2 separate regions of the Homo sapiens genome follow, and region 2 is linked to region 1. Evidence: fine-mapped expression QTL. A gene starts in region 1. The other region holds a variant in brackets. All regions are shown on one strand. Distances are between the middles of the regions.

What was found. PIP is the estimated chance that this variant, and not a neighbour inherited with it, causes the effect.
Region 2: its variant is the best candidate, but not a certain one, in a credible set for the expression of ZNF283 in whole blood (INTERVAL, PIP 0.50).

Annotation. Positions count from the first base shown.
Region 1 is chr19:43,825,570-43,829,968 of GRCh38, reverse strand. It overlaps ZNF283 (zinc finger protein 283), which reads right to left and starts at 2,648. Exons shown (of 7, transcript NM_181845.2): 1 at 2,525-2,648; 2 at 1,688-1,767. RefSeq lists an enhancer at 2,591-2,790.
Region 2 is chr19:43,848,110-43,852,508 of GRCh38, reverse strand. ZNF283 (zinc finger protein 283) reads right to left here. Exons shown (of 7, transcript NM_181845.2): 7 at 492-4,399. The coding sequence ends at 3,868. Among named protein-coding and RNA genes, the nearest start is that of ZNF283, 23 kb to the right of the region's middle. The variant T/A (reference allele first, on the strand shown) is at 2,366.

The sequences.
Region 1 (4,399 bases):
ACACTACAACCTCCGCCTGCTGGGTTCAAGCAATTCTCCTGCCTCAGCCTCCCGAGTAGCTGGGACTACAGCCACCCGCCACCATGCCCGGCTAATTTTTTGTATTTTTAGTAGAGACGGGGTTTCACCATGCTGGCCAGGCTGGTCTCGAACTTCTGACCTTGTGATCCACCCGCCTCGGACTCCCAAAGTGCTGGGATTACAGGTGTGAGCCACCGTGCCCAGCCCCCACTTTTTTAGTTAATTTGCAAGCACCCGTCACAATCAACTTCATACTTCTGTTACTCTAATCTATAAAAAGTTTATGGGAAATAATCTAGAAGAGCCCAATAATAGCAACTCAATATTCAGTAAGCCCATATCATGGGGATGACACTGCTCTACGAAGCTTTACATATAATATCTCATCTTACATCATATCAACTCCATTAGGTAGGTACTATCCTGTCCCTATTTTATAGATGTGGCACAGAGGGCCTGAATCAATTGTCTAAGCACACACAGCTACCAACAGGCAGAGCCAGGATTTGAATTCAGATACTTTGGATCCAGAGCCTTAATTTTTTTGTTGTTGCTGTTTTTTCGAGATGGAGTCTCTCTCTGTCACCCAGGCTGGAGTGCAGTGGTGCAATCTTGGCTCACTGCAACCTCCACCGCCCGGGTTCACGCCATTCTCCTGCCTCAGCCTCCCGAGTAGCTGGGACTACAGGCGCCTACCACTACGCCCAGCTAATTTTTTGTATTTTTAGTGGAGACGGGGTTTCACCGTGTTAGCCAGGATGTTCTCGATCTCCTGACTTCATGATCCACCTCCCTCAGCCTCCCAAAGTGCTGGGATTACAGGCGTGAGCCACTGTGCCCGACCCCAGGGCCTTATTTTTAACTACAACATAGTACGGCTTCTTACATGCCACAGAAAGCTGGACTTCAAACAAGTCATGCTTGGAAATGTTACAGATTTCTATCTAAAGATTATCTGAAAGTCCCCACTCTTGTTGGTGCAAATTACAAATCCCTATGTTCAAAGCTCAATCATATTTCCACCCCTAAAAGCCTCACAAAGCAGACAACATTGTCATTTACTGCCAGAAACATTCCCTTACTTAAAATCCCTTATACCTTGCCTTTCTTTAAGCATCATGACTATGGGCCAGGCATGGTGGCTCACACCTGCAGTCCCAGCACTTTGGGACGCCAAGGCCAGAGGAACACCTGAGCCCAGGACTTCAAGGTTGCACTGAGCTATGACTATACTACTGCACTCAGCCTGGGCAACAGAGTGAGACCTTGTCTCTAAAAAAAGTTAAAAAAAAATTTTAATTATGACTACAGAAAAGATAAAAAATAATGTTTATATAACACCACCTAATTACTAATCTCTTCAAATAATCATAGTATAAAATAATGCTCTAATAGCAATCTACAAGAGGTGCCTTTCTATAACTCTTCAGTGCATCATAATGCACTGAAGTATTTGAACAATTTGCCATATGAACAGGTGGGTAAGAATTGTGGAGAAGAACAATAGGGGGCCACTGGGAGGAAATATGTACCAGCATGGCGGGTCATGTAACTGGGAAAACCCAGTCAAGATATTTCAGGCCAAGGAAAGAAAATGTTCTCATGACCTAGAAGCAAAGGTAATTGTATGTGTATGTATTTAAAAAGTATGTATAAAAAACCTCACCTGAACCTTGATTTCTAAACATGCAAAAATCCTTTTCTCCTCTTCAAACTCCTTCTTAGAAATCTGGCAACCTGGCAGCACTGGGGGAAAAAACAGTAACATGAGACATCAGCATTTCTAGCGCGTCACAGACTTAATTAAAAAAGAAAAAGAAGAGCAAAACACCCTCTGGGGCCACTTCTGCCTTCATCCACACAAAACCAAACGGAATGAAAAGGGAGGCTAGAGTCTGTCTCTGTGTTGAGGGCAATTCTTGGGGACAGAGGTCTGCTTGCAATGGCTCTGAAACATGTAGCTCACCACCAAAGAGCTCCTAGAGGCCCCTCTTCTAGGAATCCCACCTCTAGAACTTCCCCATCAGGTCTTGACAAGATCCTGTCCCGCGGACACTTCCAGATCTAAAATTCTCATCCTTCTTGCTTGAAACGTTCATTATGGGGCTTAGCATAGACTTCTTTCTTGCGGTCATTTAATTGTGGCAGGCCCGAAGACAGGCTAAAGGGAACCTAGAGCATTTGGTCAAAGCAAATCACATTTACAAATACGGCCACGCACCCTGTCAGCCCGTCACACATTCACAACTGCACCCACCTCCGTGGGGACACGCCCCGTCCCTGCCACGCCGTCTGAGACACACTGTCCCTCGGCTGCTCGCGTGCACACAGGCTTGAGGATCCGGACACGACACGCTCTGTCCGTGACCCAGCCCTCCCCACCTCCAGCACCCCCGATGCCACCCCCACCCTCACTGCCGGTTCCAGTCGGGCCCCAGTAAAGCCAGCCGAGCCCTCCCAGCTTCACCCGGGCTGATTACTTCTACAGACACGACCAACTCACCATGCAGAGTCCAAGAACCTTAAGGACACCGGAAAAGGACCCAGAGACCTGTGGTTAGTTTGGACCCAGAGGCTGATGGGAAACAAGAGCCTGGAAATGCTCGCAGGCTGGGAGAGGAGCTTCTGGCAGGCAAGCTCGCCCCGCCCCTAAAAGGCCTGTGCCCCGGAGACTTCTGGGAAATGTAGTCCACAGCGGCAGAGTCTCCGGAAGTTGAAACCTGGACAGCAGGGATGCTCCCAGCATGCAACTTGGCTTCACCTGTCAAAGGCGCTTTTTTCGAAGACGCCCGGGAGCTCTTGCTTTTGCTTGAGGGTCTTTGGTGTTGACTGAGAGCGAATTAAAAGGTTCTCAGCTTTCGCTAAGGAACGCATTCTGGAGTCTAGAACAGGCGAAGATGGGACTGGGGTGTCTGGGGACTTAGACGTGAGCGAGCAAGGGAATCCGGGGTAAGTTCGCTGGAAATGACCTGCGCGACACTACCAGTTTACCTGGGTATGAGCGCCTGGAACAGTGTCTGGCAATTGAACAGATGGGTGTGTCTTGCTGTGAGGGAGTTTCTTAGTTCGATTCGGTGTCTGGGACCCTGCGTGGACCTGTTTATGTTCATGGGATGTTTTCTAAATTTATGCCTGTGTGAGTCTGTTTTATTAGGTGTGAGATGAACTGTGTTACAGATTTTATATGCCGCTGTTGAAAGACAACAATAAGTGGTAGTGAGTGGATATTGTGACCGTGGAGACTTATGGCAGTGCAAAGGCGGCCATAAACAATGCACAAGCAATCCAGCATGGCTGTGTTCCAATAAAACTTGATGGATTATAAAATTTGAATCTCATTTTTTATAGAGTATGAAACCATTTATTCTGAAGCACACACTCATACTCCAAAAACAATACTATATATTCCCTCTCTCTCTCTCCTGTGTGTTTGCGTGTGTGTGTGTGTGGGTGTGTGAGAGAGAGAAAGGTTTTAAAGGAGACAACTAACTGATTCTGAGGTTAGGGCAAAAAGATTGGGGCTGTGGTTGGTGTGGTAAGAACCTTTGGATATAAATACTTTTTTAAAAAAGAATTGTCTAAAAATATTAAAGCGAAATTTTATATTAAAACTAACAGAAAGAAAAGGAAGTTACTTTTTAGGGGCTCTTTCTGGTCACTGATATCACCTCTCTCATCCTCTGCCATCTCTCACCTCCTGGTCTCTCTTGCTTATCAAGAGAAGACTAGAGCTCTTGGATCCCAGCTTTTCCCCTGCCTCAGCTGAGGCCACTACCCTGGTTGACTCCCATGGTGACATGGATGCCTCATCCAGTATCGTGGGTCTGAGTCCTCATCTGCAGGGTCCTTGAGCTTTCCTCGGCACCCATCCCCGTTTCCCATCTGGGACTTCATTATCATCAGCATCTGCTCCACCTCCAAAACCACTGGTGGAAGCAGCCTCCTCTCTTCCCATGTTACTTGCTCAATGACTCCCACAAGTACTACTCTGAATATTTTGGGGGTCTGATTTTTTTTTAATTTTTTATTTCCATAGGTTTTTGGGAAACAGGTGGTGTTTGGTTACATGAGTAACTTCTTCAGTGGTGATTTGTGAGATTTTGGTGCACCCATCACCTGAACAGTGTACATGGCACCCAATTTTTAGTCTTTTATCCCTCACCCCCTTTCCACCCTTTCCCCCAAGTCCCCAAAGTCCACTGTGTCATTCTTAGGCCTTTGCATCCTCACACCTTAGCTCCCACTTATGAGTGAGAATATACGATGTTTGATTTTCCATTCCTGAGTTGCTTCACTTAGAATAATAGTCTCCAGGCCGGGCATGGTGGTTCACACCTGTAATCCCAGCACTTTGGGAGGCTGAGGCAGCTGGATCACC
Region 2 (4,399 bases), 23 kb before region 1:
AAGTTCTGACTTCCCAACACATTATTCTTAAGAGCACATAATGAAGGATTTTAGGGGCCATGCTGGGATGCGTCTTTTATGCGGATCTTGGCTAGTACTACATGGCTATGAAGGCTCCTTAAAGGAACTGTGCTAACACTCAATAAATCTGTTATGTCTGAAGTAGGAATTAAAAGACAAAAAAAAATGCAACAGATGGAACTAGAAAAGTGGTCAAGGATCAAACAAAATAACCTAATAGGATCATACAATATTAAAAAACAGGCTATTGCAATACCAAAACAAACAAAAATACAATAAAAAAGAAAACTATTATATAATCTCACTCATGAGATGCAAAAATACTAAATAAAATGGCAAAATGAAATCAAGCAATGCATCAGAAGGATACTATGACTAACCTGGAATATCCAGGAATGGGAAAAAGTCAGTGAATCTATCAGAATAAATTATCACATGAACAAATTAAATACTATAGAAGTGCAGAAAAAGATAGTGAAACGGCATTTAATAAAACTCAGGAGGCACCACTACTTAGCTACAACAAAGATTTTCACTCATAACTGAGACCATGATGCTGCCATTCCATCATAGCTAACAACCAGACATGGTGACTGAAATTCTCTTTTGGTTATAGCAGCAGTTCCCAATGCAATTTCACCCACCTACAAAGATAATAGGTCATGGGAATAAGTATTTCAACAGTGAAGTTTGCCATACACCAGTTTAAACAAAGTTCAACCATTTTCTTCACTAGAATACTCCTTAGTCTTTTTTTATTTTTATTTTTTTGAGACGGAGTCTCGCTCTGTCGCCCAGGCTGGAGTGCAGTGGCGCAATCTCGGCTCACTGCAAGCTCTGCCTCCCGGGTTCACGCCATTCTCCTGCCTCAGCCTCCCCGAGTAGCTGGGACCACAGGCGCCCGCCACCACGCCCGGCTAATTTTTTCTATTTTTAGTAGAGACGGGGTTTCACCGTGTTAGCCAGGATGGTCTTGATCTCCTGACCTCGTGATCCGCCCGCCTCGGCTTCCCAAAGTTCTGGGATTACAGGCATGAGCCACCGCGCCCGGCCGTCTTTTTTTTTTTTTCACTTCTCTTTAGTCTTTTGATAAGCTGGTGAGGTGCTTTTGCTTGTTCCTTAGGAGGGGATTTAGTAGATGCTACTTTATAAGCTTCTTTAACTGTAAAATCCTCCTTCATTGTCAAGTACTAGTAAGCACTGGTGATTCCTTGAGATATAATTTCAGAAATGTTGGGATAAGGCACCATGTCTACATTTCTTGGTTAACAGGCAAATGTGGCACCCAGAGGGAGTGGCATAATAGCCAGTTACCAATAATATATCCTGTTAAAACTCCCAAAGTACTCTGCTTTGTGTTACAGTTGATTATTAAGAGTGCAACTGTTGGCTTTTTATGCCTTTGAAAAAGTGCAATCATGTAGAATGATGATCACTAGATGGTGAATGACTGACTGAACAGTGATATTACGAATCCCCTATGTGCACAAAATAGAGAGGTCAGGTGTAGACCTATGACAAGGAACCACAGACATTTAGTTATCAATGCATTAGTTCTGATGGAACTGACATTATTTTCAAAAAGAAATAATTTTTAAAAGGGTCGATTTCTAACTGTGTGAGTATATAAACACACACTCTATTTCTTCATAACTAACCTGCCTTGATGCTAGCACTAAATCATGACAGGCACCTGGTTGAAAGTGGTTGCAAGAAGCCATCAATTTTAAGATGCATTGTGATTTCCAAATAGTAAAATATAGCCAGGCGCAGTGTCTCACACCTGTAATCCCAACACTTTGGGAGGCTGAGGCAGGTGCAGGAGTTCAAGATCAGCCTGGACCAACATGGCAAAACCCCATCTCTACTAAAAATACAAGAATTAGCCAGTATGGTGGTGCACACCTGTGTATCCAGCTACTTGGGAGGCTGAGGCACGAGAATCACTTGAACCCGAGAGGTGCAGGTTGCAGTGAGCCGAAATCACACCACTGCACTCCAGCCTTGGTGACAGAAAGAGAGATCCTGTCCCAAAAAAAAAAAAAAGTAAAATACATACCATATGATCACACATTTCCAAAGATCATTGATCAAGGCTGACCAATCCTATTAGGTATATAATGGATCTTTATAACAGACAACTCCAGTAGTTACCATAAGTGATCAAACTTGGCACTGGTGATACTGGGGGAAATGGATACTATCTGCTTCTGAGGTATTGCAAGATGAAGTACACATCACCATCTATGAAGTGTTCTGGTAAAAAATGTTTAAGCCTCTATTTCCAACTTCATGTTACGAGAAATGTGAAGGAGAGGCCCATATCAAATTTCACCATGAGGAA[T/A]GAAACTAATGTGTGACATTCTATAAAACAGCTTTCCTAAACTCTTCAAAAGTCTGGATTTTTTCAAGTCTCATTTTTTTAGCTCAGCTTAAGGGATAAACTCTGAATTAAAATCCCCTCAAATTCTTTATACTGTACTAGATCTTATCCAGAATGAACTATCTGAAATTCAAATGGATGAGTGGTTATGGGAAGCTTTTCTGAATTCATTCCTCAAAACGGTTGTGCCTCTCCTAAGAATTCACCAGTAGTAATACTAATAATAAAGACAATATGAACAATAGCTAATATGTATTAAGCATAGGCTACATACCAGATACTCTTCCAAGGATATGATGCATACTAAATCCATCTAATCTCTGTAACAGCATTATTAGTTACCATCAGCATTTGAAACATCATGTCCAGAAGAGATAAGCATTTTGCTCACCATCCTACAGGTAGTATGGAGGTGAAATGGTGATGACAGTATGGTATTTGCCATGGATAAGGGTTTTCCTACATTTGTTACATTAACAGAGTTACTCTCTAGGATGAACTTACTGAAGTTTAACAAAGACTGAATAGTGTTGGAAGGCTTCTGCACATTTAACATATCTGGTATAAATTATCTTATGCTGTTACAGGCATTAGAAAATTTTGATTCCCTCATTTGCCAAATCTTGCTATAGTATGAATATTCTGCTATTCTAATCAGAGAGGTGCAAGTGAAGAATTTCTTATTTAAATTGTCACTTGTCTCATGTCTTGAAAAGTGTGAGTCTTGTCTCAAATTATTTCTGGGAAAGAACAAACTTTGTTTTCAATTCTCAATCATTTATGGACTGATAATTTTGTAAAACAGAATGTTATGGAAATGTCAAATTGCTATAAAAGTTCCAAATATTTACTCACTTTCCACGTTTATCTCACAATTGACAGATGACAATTTTATGACTGCACCAGTCTCTGGATAATAATTTGGGTAGCATTTGTCTAAAGGCCTTCCTATAATTCTAATTCAAATGATTTCTCATTTGGATGAATTCTCTGATGTACTCTAAGATATTTACTGTGTCTATAAGCCTTCCCAAATTCCTTATGTGCATAGGATTACACAGCAGTATGAATTCTCTGATGTGCAGCAAGAACTGAATTAAGTTTAGGTCCTTCCCACATTCCTCCTATTTAAACTCTTTTTAACAAATACCAATTATTTGATGTTAATCAGACCTTATGTCATGAATGAAGATCTTCACACATTCCTTACATTTAAATGATTTTACATCAGTATAAATTGATATCCAATAAGACTGTACAGAAGTCTAAAGGCCTTTTCATATTAATTATATTCAAAATATTTCTCACTAGTATGAATTGCTGGATAGCAAGATAATTGCCCATAAACAGAAATGAATGGCTTTTGCACAACCCTTACATTCACAAGGTTTCTCAAGAGTAAGAGTTCTTATTATGATAAGTTGTCTATACACACACACAAAATATTCTTTTACAACTTTCAATCATAAGGTTTCATCAGTATCAATTTTCTCATTTGAGTAAGTTGTCCACAGAAAGGCTTCCCCACATTCGTTATATTTGTAGGGTTTATCATTACTATGAGTTCTCTCATGAACAAGTTTTGAGCCACAAGTAAAGGTCTTCCCGAATTCCTTACGTTGATAAAGCTTCTCACCAGTATGAAATCTCTGATGAACACTAAGTTGATAGCCACTACCAAAGGCCTTCCCACAGTCTTTACATTCATAAGACTTCTCATTAGTATGGACTCTCTCATGCTTAACTAGGCTTGAACCCCAACTGAAGGCCTTCCCACATTCCTTACATTTGAAAGGTTTCTCACCGGTATGAATTTTCTGATGTTGAGTAAGGTGATAGCCACGACTAAAAGCCTTCCCACATTCTTTACATTCATAGGGTTTCTCCCCTGTATGGATTCTTTCATGTTGAACAAGGCTTGATCCACAATTAAAAGCCTTCCCACATTCCTTACATTCATAGGGTTTCTCACCAGTGTGAAATACCTGATGTCGA